3 linked regions of the Homo sapiens genome follow. The protein of the gene in region 1 interacts with the protein of each later gene in a pairwise test. Each region holds a gene or a part of one and is shown in the gene's direction. Other genes may lie near its edges.

Region 1 (7,169 bases):
ACTTGGAAACACAGTGTTGGGCTGACTGTGAATCCGCACAGGCAGAGACATTTTTCCAAGTCGCCTTCTAAATCAAAAGCCTTTGGACTTACCCACGTCACATCCGCCTGCTGCTGCTTCTCAACCAAGCTGCCCCCACTCTCGGCCTCTGTCCCCGATGGCCCTCTCGGGCTGTGCAGGTCCCACGGACCCACCGCTGCCTTCACTTCATCCTCGCTGCCGCGCTTGCCTTCTCACGCTTGCCTTCTCGGAGCGCCCCCTAACCGCGCCTCCGGACCTTGCTTCCCGGCTCCCTCAGGCATCCCCAGCTTTTCCCTGCAGTCCCCACTGGGGGCTCCTGGCTCTATCCTATGCCTTAATTGCTGGTGGGCTCCAGCTCCCCTCCTGGCACCTTCTCTCTCATCCTGCAAAGGAGGAGCTTCTTCTACAGAGCTCAGGATGGAGGGTGGGGTCTTGGCCCCGCAGTCAGCCCATTACTCTCGGAAGCCCCCCTGAGCCTTCTCTCAGGCGCAGATTGATCGTCTCAGACAACGGGATGTGTAGAGATAGCTCTCCCGAGTGCCCCCACTTGTTGGGAGCCAGGGGCTCATTCCATGCTGTTTCCATCTCGGTCTCCACCTGCTGGAGGCACAATCACAGCTCAGTTTGTTGGTGCCAGAGTTGCACAAGAAAGTGGGTGCCATTGAACACGAGGCATCAGTCAGGCTCCAGCCTACCTGGGCTGGCCCCAGAGACATCCATCTGGTGTCCCTCAGTTCTCCAATTGAGTTTGTCCAAATAACTCATCTTCCCTTGTGCAAAAACAAAAAACAACAACAAAGAAAACAACGCAAACTGCCTCCCCTCTGGGGTTCCCACTCCCCTCAGAGGGACCACCACCTTCCAAGGCCCCACAAGGATTTTTGATTGCCCTGGGAACCCAGCTCCCAATCCCTCTCAGTTCTCTTTTCTCCTCTGCACCATCAGCCCCAGGCTCTCTCCCCATTTCTTGAATGCCTGCAGCTGCCTCTAAGCAAACTCTGCCTCCAGCCCGTTCCCTCTGCCCCATCCCCATCCTGCAGCCAACAGGGTCCCTCTAAAATGCAGACACTGAAAAGACAAAGCCCAGCAGGGTAGCTCTATAGTGTCCTTTGTGGCCCTGCTGCCTCCACAGCCCCCAGCACTGGGATGGTGGAGGCTGGTGTCCTTAACTCACTGTGTCTCCACCTGACTCCACACTGCCTCTCACCCTGGCCTCCTCCTGTGCCTAGAACAGTCTCCACTGCCATACTTGACCACACCCAGCATACAACAGGTCCTACAGAGTGAAGGGATGAGTGACTCAATGAGTGAGGGGAAGTCCCTGTGGAGACACCGGGACACCATTGTGGGCTGCAGTTTCCAGCCGGGGAAGCCTCCCTCGACCTCTGAGGGGAGGTGGGCCACCCCTTGAGGGCCACTCTCAATGCGCTCCACCTTGGCTGACGGAAGCAAGGACGTGGCCCAGGATCCTGGAGGGCCACTCCTGTGTGCGCCACCTTGGCTGACAGAAGCAAGGACGTGGCCCAGGGTCCTGGAGGGCCACTCTTGTGTGCTCCACCTTGGCTGACGGAAGCAAGGACGTGGCCCAGGATCCTGGAGGGCCACTCTTGTGTGCTCCACCTTGGCTGACAGAAGCAAGGACGTGGCCCAGGGTCCTGGAGGGCCACTCTCACGTGCTACACCTTGGCTGACAGAAGCAAGGACTTGGCCCAGGGTGCTGGACCAGTTGTGGCAGCTGCTGCAACTCACGAAAGCCACCACGTGGTGTTCTTCACCTAACTTGCCCAGTCCCAAGCCCCTGCCCGAGCTGCAGTGAGACAGAGCACTAGCCCCTCTCTTCTCTTTGGGTTCACCCCAGCTGTGGAAGCCCCAGCACCTCAGCACGCCTCCCTTGCCCTGTGCCTTCCTCTGCCAGCACCCCCCAAAGACTCCAACACCCCCATCACGATGTGCCCCAGTCTCCTGTCCTCCAGCCCTTGTCACAGGAGCTGTGAGCCCAGCCCTGGGCACTTCACGCTCTGGAAGACCGGAGTCTCAGACGCCACCTTTCTCCCTGGCAGCCAGGGTCTCTTGGGTCAGAGGAGGCCTGGACACTGCCAGGTTTTGAAGCTGTCAAAAAGATTTTTTTTTTAAAGGGAGAAATATGTCCAGGGAGCTGTAACTGTTACAGTATATTTTAAATGTATGTGTTGAACAGATTAACTTTTTGAACATTAACATACAGCATGACACAGTTCTGCTATCCATGCTGTGATTGCAGGATTGCTTGGAAGCTGTACTGATGTGCAGCCCACCTGCTCATGGTGGGGGGTCCTGTTCCAGGCCACAGAGAGGCAACCAGCAATGCTCTGCTTGGAGATTCGTACAGGAAGCCAAGAAGGAGCTGAGAGGGGCCCAGCCAGTGGTTACAAGAGACAGCAGGAGGTTCAGACCACAGCAAGGGTGGCACTGGAGTAGCCTCCAGCTCATCTTATTTGACTGGTAGAGTGTTATTAAAGCCTTTGAAATCCCTACCAGCTTTTAAAAATCAAGAGATTTCACATAGAAATCCTGATCTCTGGGTTCTTTAGAGAAATCCAGACCTGGGACGCTGGGCTTGCCAGTCCGCACGACCCCACTTGGCTGGAGCCAAGCAGCACTTGCCCCTGTAGAAAGAGCCCGCCCCTGCAAAAGCATGTACGGTTTAGAAACCTGGCTGAGAAAAACAGAGGATCAGAAGGTCTGAGGGAGGAAACAGAGGGGCAAGTTTGAGGGAGCTGGGCAGGGCCGCCTGGCCACCATCAGGGCTGAGCAGGCTCAGTGTGGCACCACTGACAGCTTCTCACCAGGACTATCAGACCGCTTGGGAAAAAGACTTCACCATGAGTTGTGTGTTCATACCTTTTGATCCAGTAAAAGGAAACGGTTGGGGGTGGGGGTGGGGGGCAAGAGTATACATTTTGTGAAAGAAAAAATACACAAAAAGATGTTTTGTGGCATTTGGGTTTGTGAGTTCGAGAACTGAAAAACGGCATTTTATGTATAATGGAAAGCCTCTTTACTGCTGTAGAGTGAAAAGCAGGCTGGCTTTCAGTGCGACGGTCACAAATGTGGGGCTTTACAGTACTTGGAATGTACAGGACGCCCTTAAAAGCCAAGAAGCTTGCCTTTGCTTTGTTTACATCAGTGCATTATGATTTTGAGCCATTATATCTCTTCATAATTGCCACTGTTTTAGGGCTTATGAAATTTAAAGTCTTAACTTGTGTGTTAACCAGCCAAATCTTTGCAAGTGTCTGTGTGTGGTACGAGAATTCGTATTGTGTTCTCTGCTGTTTTCAGAGTTGTTTCAGTCAAAGAAAAAAAAATGCCCGTCTTAAAACTTTTCCTCTGCTTCAAATACAGCTCCCAAGCCCAGGCTGATTGGAATTAATCTGTCCTCCCTTAAAAGGGCAAAAGCACAAGGCTCAGCCCTGGCTTTCCCAGCTCCTCTGGTCTCGCTGCTCCACGGACGTGTGACGTACGCTGGTGAAACGAAGCCCGCTTGAATGGGGGCTTCACTATTGTGTGCTGCTGAACCTAGGCCTAGCGCCTGGCAGGCTTTGGTGAATGTTCAGAAAATGACAATTCATTTCGTGTCAGCGAGGGCACACCAGCTTTGAATATTTTGCTGCTGTTCAAATGCACAATTTTGACAATTACCTAGCAATGTCCAAAGTCGTCATAATTGTTAGTGTCTTGCACGTGATGTTCCTTATAACCATGTAATAAATACAGTGTGAAGTCTCCATGGCTGCCTCAGTGTGGAAAATGCAAAGACTCCCGTGTGTGCGATCTTGGTGAATGTTTTGGTTGAAAGTATGTGTTTTGAAAAAATCATTGCTTTGTTTGCAGCAGTAAAACTGACGGTAGAGTTTCCAACACGAAAGCCCGTGTGGTCGCGCCGGGAGCTCACGGCGTTCCAAGCGGCACTTATCCCGCGTTGATGCCCAGGCACCCCGCGCGCCCTGTTTCACCAGGCCCAGTCACTCCAGCTCCAGCAGCACTGAGAGCTCACGAACGCCAAGGGCGAGAGCGAGGTGGGGGAGGGCGGCCGGAAATGCGCGCGCGGCTCTCTGGGAAATGGAGTTAGGCTCGCGCCGGCGCAGTGTCGGCTGCCGGTGCCGCGGCCTTTGTCTCGCAGTCAGGAGGGTGAGCTAGGCCGGCGAGGAGGGGGAGGGGAGGCCAGGCCGGGCCGGGCCGGGCCGGGTGCGGGGGGTCCGGGGATCTTCCTGAGGCCCTGGCGGGGCGAGTTTCCAGCAGCGCGCGTCTGTGTGGAGTCCGTTTTGCTGCCCGGGGCCTGGGGAAGGCCGTTTCGGGGCTGGCGGGGGCAGGCTTTGCGGGGCATCCCTAGTCTGAGAGGAGGGCGGGGCCCAACGCCCAGCTGGACAGGAGCTGCTCCGACGGCCCCTGAGGGAACGCGCGCCCCGCCCCTGGCCCCACCTCTGCCCCACACCGGGCACTGGGCCGCCACCTTTGTTGATGGAAGAGAGAAACTGAGGCATAGTGCCCAGGGCCAGGGGACCGCAACCACCCGGCCCTTGTCACTGTAGCGTTAAGGCTCAGAGTCTGCGCAGCAGATATGTGTCCGCACCCGCCAGGCCTTCAGCTTCCCTCAGACAGGCGGGAAAACCCTAGGCTGCCCTTCTCCGAGCGGAGGGCCGCCCCACACACAGCAGGCGCTTAAACGGGTACGCGGGGCCCTGGACGGCTCTCCGCGGAGCTCCCCAGGCTCTGGCGCAGTTCCCCGGCTTGGGGACCTGAGCACCGCCTCTGCCTGCCCCAGCTGCTCACCTCCCCTTTCCCACAGAGCAGGGCCAGCCGTTCCTGCCAGAAGCCAGGGCATGACCCCTGGGGTGCGCGTCTCCACAGACCCGGTGAGAATCTCGGCCTCCTTGCGCGTGTCCTCCACCTCGTGCCCGGCCTCCTCGCGCGCGGCCTTCTCACGCCCGGCCTCCTCTTTGCACCCCGTCCCTACTCGCGCTCAGCCTCCTCCTTGTGCCCGGCCCCTACTTGCGTGCCCGGCCCCTACTCGTGCCCGGCCTCTACTCGCACAACTGGCCTCTACTCGCGCACCTGGCCTCTACTGGTGCCCGGCCTCTACTCGTGCCCGGCCTCTATTTGCACATCTAGCCTCTACTCGTGTCCGGCCTCTACCTGCACACCCGGCCTCCTAAAGTCCGCGCCAAGCTCCCCAACCACAGCCTGCCTCTGAAAGGACCGCCCACGCCGCGCTGGAGGTCAGCGGGCACGGGTCCCTGTCTGAGTGGGCTTTATGTTTGTGCGGCCGTCATTGCATACCTGAGGCTGGGTGATGTCAGAAAATTGTAGGTGCCCCGGCTCTGCAGTCTGAAGTTGAAGGCCTTAGCATGCTCTGCGCTCCAAGATGGCGCATCGAGTGCCGCTTCCTCAGACGTCATGGAGGCCAAGGGGGCGGAACTCGCCTTTTTATGATGACATTAACCCCACCCATAAGCCACCAGAAGAAACCAGCCTCCTGTAGGAATGTCAGAAAACCCGTACAAGGGGACTGGTGCGATGGCTTGTAGCTGTAATCCCAGCTATGGGGGAGGATTGCTTGAGCCCAGGAGTTGGAGGCTGCAGTGAGCCATGATGTGCCACTGCACTCCAGCCTGAATGACAGTGGAACCCTGTCTCTAAAAAATTAAAAAACAAACCCAGATTTGGCCGGGCGCGGTGGCTCGCACCTGTAATCCCAGCACTTTGGGAGGCCGAGGTGGGCGGATCACGAGGTCAGGAGATCGAGACCATCCTGGCGAACACGGTGAAACCCCGTCTCTACTAAAAATACAAAAAAAAATTAGCCGGGGGGGTGGCGGGCGCCTGTAGTCCCAGCTACTCGAGAGGCTGAGGCAGGAGAATGGCGTGAACCCAGGAGGCGGAGCTTGCAGTGAGCCAAGATCATGCCACTGCACTCTAGCCTGGGCGACAAAGCGAGACTCCGTCTCGGGGGAAAAAAAAAACCACCCAGATTCAGTCTTTAGACTTCTGCTACTAGCTTTATAACTTTGTTTATCCCCTAGGCTGAAGTGCAGTGATGCAATCATGGCTCACTGTGCTTCAAACTTACGTGCTCAAGTGATCCTCCCACCTCAGCCTGTTAAGCAGCTGGGACCACGGGCATGCGACACCATGCTGGGCTGGTCCACTCCTTTATTGCTGGCTCCCTCCATTTCTTATTTCAAGAGACAAATTATTGGAAACGGGCATGATGCCTTAGATTCTAAGATCCTCCACCTCATCAGCAGGGCACCCATCCAGGCCCCACAGAAAAACCTGACCCAAAACCCCAGACCAAAGGGAACTCCATCCGACCCAGCCTGGCTGGCATTTACCAGCTACCCCACCAGCAGCCAGTGCCAGGGTTGGCTTGGCTGAGGACACTCGTGTGATGTTTCAGGAGCAAGTGACGTTTGAGGACGTGGTAGTGGGCTTCAGCCAGGAGGAGTGGGGGCAGCTGAAGCCTGCCCAGAGGACCCTGTACCGTGATGTAATGCTGGACACCTTCAGGCTTCTGGTCTCTGTGGGTAAGGCCACACCCATGTCCTATCTGTTGATCTGTCCCTGACACGGATTCTGATTCTACCAGGTTAAATATTTATAGGACTGAGCTTTAAAAGCAAATGCCTGGGGCTGTATGTCTTGGGCTTTAAGAACCTGACTGTTTTAATGTAGGAAATATCAATTAAGACCAATATTAGCAAGTCTCAGACTCAACCTGAAATCAACAGAAGCAGAGAAACATGAGGTGAGGGAAACATACTGGGTCTGAAGACTACAGAATCCCAGGGTAGACCAGGGTGTTCTGTAGAGCTGTTAGGAGCCCCTCCTTCTTCAACACCTCCCTCTGCACTTCTGTCTTAGTCTGTTAGGGCTGCTAAAATACCTTAGACTGGGTAATTTTAAACAATAGATATTTGTTGCTCATGGTTCTGGAGGCTGGGAAGCCTAAGATCAAGGTGTCAGCAAATTCAGTGTTTGGTGAGGGCTTGCTCCTCACTGATGGCACTTTCTTCCTGTGTCCTGACATGCCATAAGGGCAAGGGAGTTATCTCAAGCTTCTTTTATAAGGGCACTGATCCCATTCATGAGTGGAGCCCTCATGAATT
Region 2 (7,032 bases), on another chromosome or scaffold:
TCTTCCCTCTCCCCCTCAGCCTCCTTCCCGCCCTTGCCCTGCTGTTTCCTTCCAGCAGCTCCGCGGGGAGGAGGGGAATGGGCTTGCTCTCTCTCCGGCGATTACTAACTTTTGCATCGCCCCTGTTTTGTCTTTCTCTCCCTGTCCCCTTCCCGCCCTCTGCAGACCATGGTGAATCCGGGCAGCAGCTCGCAGCCGCCCCCGGTGACGGCCGGCTCCCTCTCCTGGAAGCGGTGCGCAGGCTGCGGGGGCAAGATTGCGGACCGCTTTCTGCTCTATGCCATGGACAGCTATTGGCACAGCCGGTGCCTCAAGTGCTCCTGCTGCCAGGCGCAGCTGGGCGACATCGGCACGTCCTGTTACACCAAAAGTGGCATGATCCTTTGCAGAAATGACTACATTAGGTAAGACTTTGCTGTCTTTCCTGGAGATGGGGGGAAGAGCAATGGCAAGGCCAAAGGTTAACAGGGTTGTGAGGAAAGGAGTAGGCGTCTACGGGGAGTATGCAGCCTTCACCTCAAAAATCTTCTAGTTGGCGGAATTTAAGGGGTTCAGGAAGCATGTGTTAGTCTTCCAATATCTGATGGCAAATTCATGGCAAATGCCATACTAAGTAAAGACCATCTGGTGGGACTGGGTCATTAGATGTGCAAAGGTTGAGCACCCTCTGGTCCTAGAGTTTAAGTAAGTGGTCAGCCTCTACTGGACTTCAGGCTAAAAGCAAACATCCCAAGCGGGAGTTAAGCTGCGTTCTTAAAACAAGGTAGGAACTCACAGAGGAACCCAGAAACAAAGGTTGACTTAAAAATACAAGTGTAGTTAGTGAGAAATGATTTGTCTATGGCGATGGCTTATTAACGATATTTACATAAGCATCTTGAAACTTTTTTGAGCGGAAGGCTGTGATTCGTTCTTTGTGCTCCTTGAGAAAAATGCTAATTATCCATCAGTTTAAAGACTTGTAATTCTTCTTATAGAGAAAAAAAAAGTCCCAAGAAATAAAACCTGGTGGTAATGTTTCTCTTCATACTGTTACTCGGAGGCTTGCAATAATTCAGTTAGTGTGTGGTTTGCGATGTAGAATTTGCAGTTTTTTTCAATTGAAGCATGTTCAGGTTTTGGGTTTTTTGTTGTCGTTTGTATCACTGCCCTTGATCCCCAAAAGAGATTTAGAAAAAGGCTATAGAATTATACTAATCTTGCATTTTAAAGCAATGTATAGGAACATTCATATGTCCATGTAAGCAGTCTTTTCCAACAAGTTGCAGTGCAATTAATGGAAAGAATTCAGGAGGTCAGGTGCCTATAGGATCTTTTCAGGTGAACTCAAGCTACTTAAACTCATTAATTTGAAAGGAGGCATTTGAAGGATTACACATTTAATTTGAGTAAATGGTTTGATAGACTGATGCACATGAATGCTTCTAGGAGGTGTTCTGTTTCAACATCCAGTAATTAAAAAAAAAACCCACACGCACACAGTTGATACTAGAAAACCGCACACTTTTAAGAATTTCATCCTATGTAAATTTGTCCTAAACCTTTTTCTTTAAAGTGATTAGTAGAAAATTTTTTTCTTTCTTCAGTGTGGGTAAATCAGTGGATGAACTATTTTGTTCAAAGTTTAGCTCCATTGTGATTCGCCTTATCCTGCGACTAACATTGTAAAAGATCCCAGTGCAGTTCCGAGCTGAGTGTGGATATGTTTACCCCAGTGATATCATTAGTGTAAGATGATGGAGTAAAATGACATTTAGTTATTTTGATAATGCAACCTGTGTCGATTCTGCTGGCATCCTCAATCAGTCCAAGTAAAAGAAATACAGGAAGGGAGAGGGCTTTTATTTTTAAATTAAGATGGCAGCATTAATTTCACTAAGTGTTCTTTTAGAAGTAAATGTTGGAAAATCAGCAGGAACATGGGTGTAATGCTTTCTGGTCCTCCTTCCAAGTAATGCCATGAGCTTTGACGGTGCTGTAATTAAATAGAAAGCAAAACTGTGGTAAGAAAGGAGTGTGGTTTGAAGTGGAAAAATTGACAGTGCTGTTAAGATTCCGTGAATGGTACAGATTCATCTCTTCTCCGAGTGCCTTCAAAAAAAAAAAAACAAAAAACAAAAAAAACCCTCGCTTCTGATTACAACTAATTAAAAAGAAGATGGGTCCGCTTGTATTCCCCCAGGACAAGTTTAGGCAAGTGGCTTCCTGGGAATTGTGTCCATTCTTTTCTCTATTCTTGGGGCCAAATGTAAATGGCCTTTTGGTGTTTTCCTGTGCCCTAATGGAGCAATGGAGGATGTGTGCCCAGCCCTGAGCCTTAATTAATGGCATCTACGTTCTTACTTCCTTTTTTCCCTCTGAATCTGGAAACTGGAGCCAGGCTCGCTCTTGAACTACATGCTACCCCGAGGACCTTAGATCTTTCTAGGAGAGATGAGTTCTAGCTCAGTACGAAATTGATGGCCTCACACTTAGCTCAGGGCTCACCAGCAGCTGAGCGCCCCTTCCCCTCCAATTTAAGAGATTACTGAAGTCTTCCTTCAGTGTTCCTCTCTCAGCCCATCAGGATGTCCAAAGGGTGGGAAGGTGCAGACGTTGCTGTTCCTCTCAGCTACCCCCTCTCCAATGTCCCTCAAGTCCACTTGTTGGAGGAGCTTTCAATGCCGCAGGGACCGCTGCAGAAGAGTGGAGTAATCTGCTCGCCCGCCGCCAGGTGAAGGGGACCCCTTGGTCCGACTGAGACCACATAGCGATTTACTGAGGGGCTTTTAAACTGTCTTGACTTTGAGTTGTGGTTTTTTGAAAACAACCAAGGTCTTGCTAAAAAGCTGCGGGAGAGCTGGGAAAGGCCGGCCTGAGCGCGGGGGAGGGGGCTGCAAGATGAGGGGGCGCTTTCACCAGTCCCCTCCCCCTCCGCGGCCAAGTGTCGATGGGCAGAGCTGGGCTTCTGCCTCCTCTCCCTCCAAGATTTCAGATAAAGCGGCTGCCTTGCTGCAGCGAATCCGCACAATTAAAAGCTTTAATTAGTGGCTCCTCCATTTTCTTAGTTCTGATGGGCTTTATCTAATGAGATCTGGTCTCTGGCTTAGATCTGCTCCGAATGACGTGTCCGCAATGAATGAGAGCTGCGTCGCAAACAAAACATTTAATTAACAAAATTGGCCTCTAAGAGAGGGAGGGAAAGAATGAAGGGGGGGGGGTTGTAGAGCGGAGGGGGAGGGTGGATCTTAAAGGGACCAACGCCTGCCTGGCCCCCCCATCTTACAAAAATAGGGGAACCTTGGGACTGCCCCTTCCCCCACCCCCGGCTCCCGACCCCTCAGCTCCACCCAAGCGCCCCAAGTAGCTTCGGAAACTCCGTTTCTCTTCCTCGAACCGTCTTTCCTCCACCCCCACCTCGGGCCCGAAGACTGGCGCGGAAAGTGCAGCGAGAGGAGGAAGTTCGGAGACCGGCGGGTGGGGCTCCAGGTCCGGGGAGGGCGAGGAAACGCGCCGGAAGCCAGGGTGGCGGTCGTCGGCTGGCCCTCGCTCCCTAGGCGGCCAGCACCCGGGCCGGCGCCGCCCGAGGCCGCAGCCAGAGCGCCCAGCCGGCGGGCGGTCTCGGGCCCACGAGGGGGCGAGCGCAGGGCGGGAGCCGGGCGAGCGGGTCGCGCTTTCTTTCCCCGGGCTCCACTCGGGCGGTTCACGTGGCGCCCGCAGCCGCAGTGAGCCCGGCGCGGCCGGGGGTGGGGGCCTGGGGCGAGGGTGGGGAGAATTGGTAGTTGGTGGTGGAGGGTGTGTTTGGGTAGGGGGTGGCGTTAGGAATGGAGGCGCCGCCAGACAGCGAGTTCATTTCCCTGGTAATCAACAGCAAGCTGCTATATTCAGAGAATGCTGTCCCTTTAATTGAACAGGCTAGGTAATTAAATGGCACTTTTCCAATAGGACGTGCTAGGTAAATCTAATAGTTGGTTATTTAATATCACTTTGAAGTCTGCCCACTCAAGCACAATGACAGCACAGGAGCATGTGAACTATTAGCTAGAAAAAAAAAAAAAACAGGATCTCAAAAATTAATTAAATCGCATGCAATTTAGGGGGAACGTTTATCTTGATTTGTCATAACAGAATTAATTCAAGGCCTCCAATTCACTTGGGGGCAGATCTGTTACTCTGAATTAACCAAGCGTAATTTGGCTGATTTTTTTTTTCCTATTATGCACAGCCCCCCTCTTAAGTATCAATAGCTTCTGGTGCTTTTAAGGTGCCTGGTCTCTAGTTTTTCCGAAGTACCTTTAATGGACTTGGCTCCAGGCATAATTTCTGGGTTGCATTTCTTTGTTACATTTAATATAGCTGGTGCAGAATTTAGATTAAATATAGGAACCTGCTGGAAAACCAATTGCTTCTGGATCAGTAGCTGTGGATGTGCTTTTTTCTCCTCAGATAGGTTGCTGATATTTACTTGCAGGTACAAATGTATATACCTTTCAGCCACACTCTCAGAAACGTACCTCTCCTTGCCCAAAAGCAGTTTAGAAAACACAGCCAGGTAGCGTTTCATATTGCATGTATTTTGCTTGAAGTAATAATGCAGTTGAAAATAAGCCCACCTATTGGTCATTGAAGTTACTGAAAGATGCTAAGCATTGATAGTAAACTAAAAATACGATTTGCCCTCCATCTCTTAATGCCAGCAAGGAGAGCTGGAGCTCAGCGGGCAAACAGGAATAAAACTACATGGTGTTGTTCAAACAGGAGCAAAGCACCTTTAAAGTGCAGTGGTTTGGTGGGATTTCTTCCCATCTTTTCCGTTTTCCCTGTATAAGGAACCTCTTGATGTTTGTGATTGATTGCATTGCCCAAATGCTGAAATATTAACGACCTTCTTGGACTGAGGACCCAAAGAAAGGAAACTGAAACCGATTCTGTCATCACAATTAAAGACTCCCCTGGCTTTAATTAGCCTGACCTGGGGTATATCTCCCCGTTGCTTGAGTTAAAGAGAAAAGAGCCCATTATAGTCCAGTCTGAGACCGATAGCTACTTAATTGAGCACCTAAAGCCTCGAGCCTTTTAAATCAAACACTGTCCGGACAGTCCCCCTGGTTAGATAATTAACTCTCCAGCGCACAGAAACGTTGTGAAAAAACACACACACACACGCACACACAACTTTTCAGAAAAAGGGTGGAATTCTAATGGTAGCCTTCCTCTCTGGTAAAAGGGGATTAGAATGTGTATAGACACGTAAGTTATTCTGCTCTGAGGCAGCCTTAAAGCTGTAGGCATGGAAAGATCTTAAACTCCATTGATACGTTGTTCAATAGCACATCAGTCCTGGGTAGATCTTGGTCATTTCAAACTTTGTAACTGTAATTTTTGGCACTTCAGGAATCCCACCATTTTGTGGCTGATTGTTCTCTGAAAGGTTATGATAGCAGCCCTGGAAAAAAATAAGATCTATGAAAGGCTTTTGGATTACATATGAACTGCCCTGATTATTAAAATACACTTCGATGTTGAAGACTTACAACTGACTTTACTCAGGGTGAATTGTTAAATAAATGAACACTTAGGCTGAGTAATCAGATGGGTACTGTGAAAAGGGTATTTTTGAGATGGAGTGTCACTGTGTACCTGTTGGTAGTGGCAACCATAATTATAGATTCTTATCCATTAAAATACTTCAGGGTTGCTGTAAGAGGATATTTGTTCTTTAGCCTTGTTAGGATTCTGTCACCCCCTTCTACCCCCATTACCTGTCTTCTCTTATCCTCAGCATGTATTTGGCCACATGGACTGGTTTTTAACTTTATTTTTACCCAAATTGTTTGAATTTGGTATCCCTTTTGGGGGTTGGAATAGCACTACTGCCGTCCATAAATGCTTTCCTCAGGGCCATGCCCATTCTCTGGCTACCTTCCCCTTCTGAGAACTCCCCTGCGGCAGTGGTACTGCAGGTGAGACACCGGGAGGTCCTCATCAGTGTTCCTGAAGTGTCCAGCATTAGGAGACAGCAGCCCAGAGGCCCCCCAAGCTCCCACATGGTGTGGTCCTGCAGCTAGAGGTCCTGACAGTGTATTATTTCAGCTTTCTTTCTGTAACTGTTCTGATTCTGCAAGAACGTGTCAATGTGTCGTGGATCTCAGACTAATTAGTTTTGAAATGGAGTTTTGATTGAACTCTTCAAATCGATGCTGCTGCAAAATTTGTTTCTCGGGCTTCCTATTAAAAGCCATCTTAAGGGGCAGTTTTACTACTCTCCCTGTCGTTCAGTCAATACATTTAATAACAACTTACAGGCTATTTTCAATAAAGTGGCGACAGCAAATTAGTAGTTTGAACATGACAAGCCTCTTCTGCAAGACCAGATTCTGAAAACTCAAAGCAATTATTTTTATATAGAGGCATGCTGCAATCATTCAGATTATGGGGTGTTCTATAGGAATATGTCTCCTGGTTTGACACAGACTGCATTTTATGACTTTATTTGGACAAGGAGGAAATGCAAATGTTAATATTTATTATGACACCAATATGTTAATTTGTAAGTCCTCTTACTTTGTTTTTCGTTTTTGAAAACTACCTCTCTGATTCTGCTTACTTGTTCCGACACCACCTTTCAATGTGAAATCATTTTGGTCTGTTTAATAAATATTTGTGGATATTAAAGAGGGAAGCCCAAAAGCAAATAAAGCTTCCCAGGTTGAGTCTACAGATTGCATAAAAGCCCAAGTTCGGTGGTTATTAAAATATTTTGTTGTGCTTGCAGAAGGATGTAAGGAATTATGTATATGTTTTTCTTCAGTACACCACAATTCCTTGAGCTTTCCCCTCCTCTGCAGCCTTTTCCTTCTCCCCCTCCTCCCCCCATGGCAGATGTTGTGGTCTCATTTGATTGCATAGGAAAACTGCAGTGATACAGCAAACACCCAGAGAGATATGATGACAAATGGGTCCAGATCCCGGTAAATTACTTTCTGCTCAAATCGAAATTTCATTCAGTTTGTTGCTAGCAGAGATGAAGTAATCTAAATTGTGGACTCAGGA
Region 3 (4,546 bases), on another chromosome or scaffold:
GCTCTTTAAATTTTTTTTTTAATCAGTTTAAGAATGCTTTCTCTTTTATTGGCAGTACCTGCTTGTTTACTATTGAGATTTCACTAATGTGCCTCAGTCTTATTCTGATGATATGTAGGCCGAAAAGCTGGTGAGCCAAAAATGAGAACCTGTTACTAAACTGTCATCACATCTGATCATATTAAGATGTCACTCAGAGGTTGCCATTGGTACGGCTGAAAATTCTCCAAGAGACCAAAGGTGTGGTGTGTATGGGACCAACAAGATATTGTTACTGCTTAATTGTCCAGCAAGGGAGGAAAGTAGAGTGAGTACCCATGAGCACCAAGCATGAATCTGAGAAGGAGAATTTGCCAAAGGTGGACGATTGATTTTTGGAGTAGAGAAGGTCGTCTTTGCTTTCGGGTGCCCCTCCTGTGTACTGTGTTCTACAAAGCCAGAGCCACTTGTGATGGAATTTAGATGGTAAATCACCCCAAGCCTAGTGGCAAAGGAATCAAAGCCATCTCCTGATAAAAAGTTAGGCTTTTCAAAAAGGTATGGCTCTCAGCATTGTAGCCAAATGTAGGTTGGCATGAAATGAAGCCAGTTGTAATTGCCTTTAGATTCCGTGGAAGGAAAAGGTAGGTCCCCAGCTCCTGCAACAATGGCATTCTGAATCAATGGGACTGCAGAATTTCTTAGCAAAAATACCATTCCAGTAATGCAAGAGTGCAACGTGGTATCATTACAGTAGGTCATAGTGGCAAAATATTTTATCAGGTTAGGAAGAATTCTGCTTTTTGCTTTCCCAAACGGACTGCTTTGGTCTTTCCTCACGCTTGGCAGAACAGTGAAAGGCCAGTCTGTCATGACGTTTGAATGCTGAATAGTATAACCATTGTGGCATAGAGGGCGGGAGGCTGGACTTGAAATGGGTGAGCTGGATTCTCCCACCACTCGGGAGTTAATGGCAAGTCACTTGGCCACTCTGGTCGTTTTGGCAGCTGCAAGGTAAAATGAAAATATATGACAGATATCTGGAAGTTGATACAAAACACCATCTCCACCAGAACTCTAAGATTCCAGGCCAAAATAATACTTGGCTTGAGTTAGCTGGATGAGCATCTCAATTCTCCAATTTGTCTTTAGAGGCACTTCTGCTTCCCTTTTCCCCACATGGGATGCAGAAGAGCCAGATAAACCCCTTGAAGTTGTTTAGATAAATGTGCCAGGTGCTAAGCTCAGGGTTATTAGGAATAATAATTCAGTGAAAGGAAATTTGGATGACATGAACTCATTTCCATTAGACTTGAGCCACACAAATCAATGGGAAAAGAAACAGCTGAATCCAGGATAATATCTGGCTATTTGGAGTGGGCATGATAATGGAGGGAGATTGGGGAGGTAACAAACCAGCTACTATTAAGTTCAAGTCATGTCAGTTATTCAAATTCAGGACCAGTGGAACTTGTCCAGTATCATCAAGCAGCCAGTTATTATCAAAACCCAAGTCTTTGTCTCACTCACGGTCCACACCCCGCCCAGAGTCGTATCACTTGACTGCATTTGACCATTCAGTTTTCAGACCAACTCCATTGTTACTAGATATCCTGACACTGAAGAAGCTAAAACCAAACAACAATGACAACAACAAACCCAAGTCTGCCTTATGGCAGATTCTTCACGTCGTAACACCTTCCTTGGGACCCTATTTCTCAGTATGGACCTGACTCTCCCAGGGATCCTAGAATGCAAGCATAGTGATTGCAAACCAGACCATTTGAGGGAAACTCCTCCAGTAAGCACCCTGCATGGTCACAATGTAAACCCTGCAGGGGCAGAAAAATGATAAGCTTTGGGTCGGGTCGGAAAGCCATTTCCCCCACAATCAAAGTTCCTTAGTGTTTTCCTTGTGGGGGCGAGCTTATCTTCAGTTACCTTTTCCGGTCCTCTCTTGCAACCCCTCTCCCTCTCATCAGCTGAAAATTAGTGGATGCAGCTAGGGCTCTGAAACACATAAATAATCATAAGATGCCAGATAAACTGTATTGGTTTTAAATTAGAGACGTGCCGACCATGTCTCCCTCTGAACAGCAGCCTATTATTTTTAATTATGGCTTGCAAAGCAAAGTGATTTCTTGCCCTCTTTATAGCATCCCTGACAGTATTCTGTCAGTTTGGATGATATGATGCCTCATCACTGCACACGTCCCTAGCCACAGCCGCAACTGTTACTCAAAAGGTGAATGAAAGTGATCAGCTGCACTCTTTGCAACTTACATTTTGAAGTGGGCTGGGAGGAAATGTACCCCCTTACCTGTGGTCCCATTGTAAATCTGGGTCAAATATGACATTTAGAAAAAGGTTTTCATGGGATCTGGATGAATTAATGTGTTATGTGTTTGTGCTAAGTATGAATGTATGGTGAGGAGTGTGTGTGTGTGTGTGTGTGTGCATTAAATGTTTTAACACAACATTGCCAACCCTTCCCCTAGCAGCACCGTGGGCAAAGCATAAAGGGATGATCTGGCAGCAGCCCCACTTGGGTTTTCTACCTGATGGACCACAATTAAGAGTGGTTGGTTTGTCAGACAGAAGGTTCTACAAACGATTTGGTATCGAATTACATTATACATGGAGAAGTTGAGGGGTTGGATGAATTTGTTCTTGCACGTTCAGAAGGATACCATCTTTTTCTCTGTGTGGAAGAGGCGCCTGCCACGACGTATTGATATGTGTATTTATTTTCCAAGCCTGTCCCTGTATGAGGTGTCAAAAGTTACACCAGCTTTACAAGCGGAGTTTATGAACTCGTTTTTCCAGGATAGTCACATTATACTTTTTACAGTCATGTGCTTTCAGCCCAGTACCCTTTGCTATGCCAAGATCCAGCTGAAACTGAACCAGGTGGGGGAGGCCTGCTAATGCCCAGGCAGTCGAAATGACGCCATCTCATCACTCCTTTTCTTAAAATTTTTTTTTGTCTTTCTTCTTGGATTTCCAGCAACAGGGAGCTGCCACCACCGTGTACTGTGCTGCTGTCCCAGAACTGGAGGGTCTGGGAGGGATGTACTTCAACAACTGCTGCCGCTGCATGCCCTCACCAGAAGCTCAGAGCGAAGAGACGGCCCGGACCCTGTGGGCGCTCAGCGAGAGGCTGATCCAAGAACGGCTTGGCAGCCAGTCCGGCTAAGTGGAGCTCAGAGCGGATGGGCACACACACCCGCCCTGTGTGTGTCCCCTCACGCAAGTGCCAGGGCTGGGCCCCTTCCAAATGTCCCTCCAACACAGATCCGCAAGAGTAAAGGAAATAAGAGCAGTCACAACAGAGTGAAAAATCTTAAGTACCAATGGGAAGCAGGGAATTCCTGGGGTAAAGTATCACTTTTCTGGGGCTGGGCTAGGCATAGGTCTCTTTGCTTTCTGGTGGTGGCCTGTTTGAAAGTAAAAACCTGCTTGGTGTGTAGGTTCCGTATCTCCCTGGAGAAGCACCAGCAATTCTCTTTCTTTTACTGTTATAGAATAGCCTGAGGTCCCCTCGTCCCATCCAGCTACCACCACGGCCACCACTGCAGCCGGGGGCTGGCCTTCTCCTACTTAGGGAAGAAAAAGCAAGTGTTCACTGCTCCTTGCTGCATTGATCCAGGAGATAATTGTTTCATTCATCCTGACCAAGACTGAGCCAGCTTAGCAACTGCTGGGGAGACAAATCTCAGAACCTTGTCCCAGCCAGTGAGGATGACAGTGACACCCAGAGGGAGTAGAATACGCAGAACTACCAGGTGGCAAAGTACTTGTCATAGACTCCTTTGCTAATGCTATGCAAAAAATTCTTTAGAGATTATAACAAATTTTTCAAATCATTCCTTAGATACCTTGAAAGGCAGGAAGGGAAGCGTATATACTTAAGAATACACAGGATATTTTGGGGGGCAGAGAATAAAACGTTAGTTAATCCCTTTGTCTGTCAATCACAGTCTCAGTTCTCTTGCTTTCACATTGTACTTAAACCTCCTGCTGTGCCTCGCATCCTATGCTTAATAAAAGAACATGCTTGAATATCATCACCTGAAGTTTGTATTGTTTCTTTAAATGTTTGTTTCAGTTTGTTTTTGTTTTTCATTTTTTAGAAAAGAAATCTAGAGGAAAAATAAAGCGCTTCTAATAAAGCGCTTCTCGTAGATGCCAGGAAAACACGATTCTTGTTTCTTCTCTGAGTGAGTTTGTGTTTTGTTTTTGTGCTTTGTGGCTGTCCGTGGGCCAAGTTGTCTCACGCGATTAGCATGCCAGCATATTTTCTGTTAAAGAAAGAAAAAAGAAAAATGACTATTGTTTCATTTCACCTTAAGATGTTTTGTTATTACTTACTTACAGTGAGTTATTTTAGTCCTCAATGGTCTGCTCCCCTGCAATTAGCAAGTACTTAGTGATTAGCGGGTATCTCTATGTTTGAGAATGGGAGCTGTGCAGAAGCTCTTATCTGCGCATCCCATCTCATGGACACCATGATTTCCAGCCCGTTCCAGCAAGCACATGAGAAAGTCCACTCTGGCAAGACGGAGAA

The links. Proteins that work in one complex are often made in the same cells at the same time.
Region 2: the proteins of ZNF135 (region 1) and LMO4 interact in binary tests that used the Homo sapiens proteins (3 or more experiments, as listed by UniProt).
Region 3: the proteins of ZNF135 (region 1) and WWOX interact in binary tests that used the Homo sapiens proteins (3 or more experiments, as listed by UniProt).

What each region holds. Positions count from the first base shown.
Region 1 is NC_000019.10:58,055,120-58,062,288, forward strand, and holds the start of ZNF135 (zinc finger protein 135), read left to right. Parts: upstream 1-4,730; intron 4,731-4,849; 5' UTR 4,850-4,883; coding exon 4,884-4,916; exon of another isoform or gene 4,917-5,279; intron 5,280-6,460; coding exon 6,461-6,587; intron 6,588-7,169. UniProt on the Homo sapiens protein: Plays a role in the regulation of cell morphology and cytoskeletal organization. May be involved in transcriptional regulation.
Region 2 is NC_000001.11:87,331,848-87,338,879, forward strand, and holds part of LMO4 (LIM domain transcription factor LMO4), read left to right. Parts: intron 1-165; 5' UTR 166-168; coding exon 169-404; intron 405-7,032. UniProt on the Homo sapiens protein: Transcription cofactor. Plays a role in establishing motor neuron identity, in concert with MNX1, acting, at least in part, to disrupt LDB1-LHX3 complexes thereby negatively modulating interneuron genes in motor neurons.
Region 3 is NC_000016.10:79,208,622-79,213,167, forward strand, and holds the end of WWOX (WW domain-containing oxidoreductase), read left to right. Parts: exon of another isoform or gene 1-2,986; coding exon 2,987-3,175; 3' UTR 3,176-4,046; downstream 4,047-4,546. UniProt on the Homo sapiens protein: Putative oxidoreductase. Acts as a tumor suppressor and plays a role in apoptosis. Required for normal bone development. May function synergistically with p53/TP53 to control genotoxic stress-induced cell death.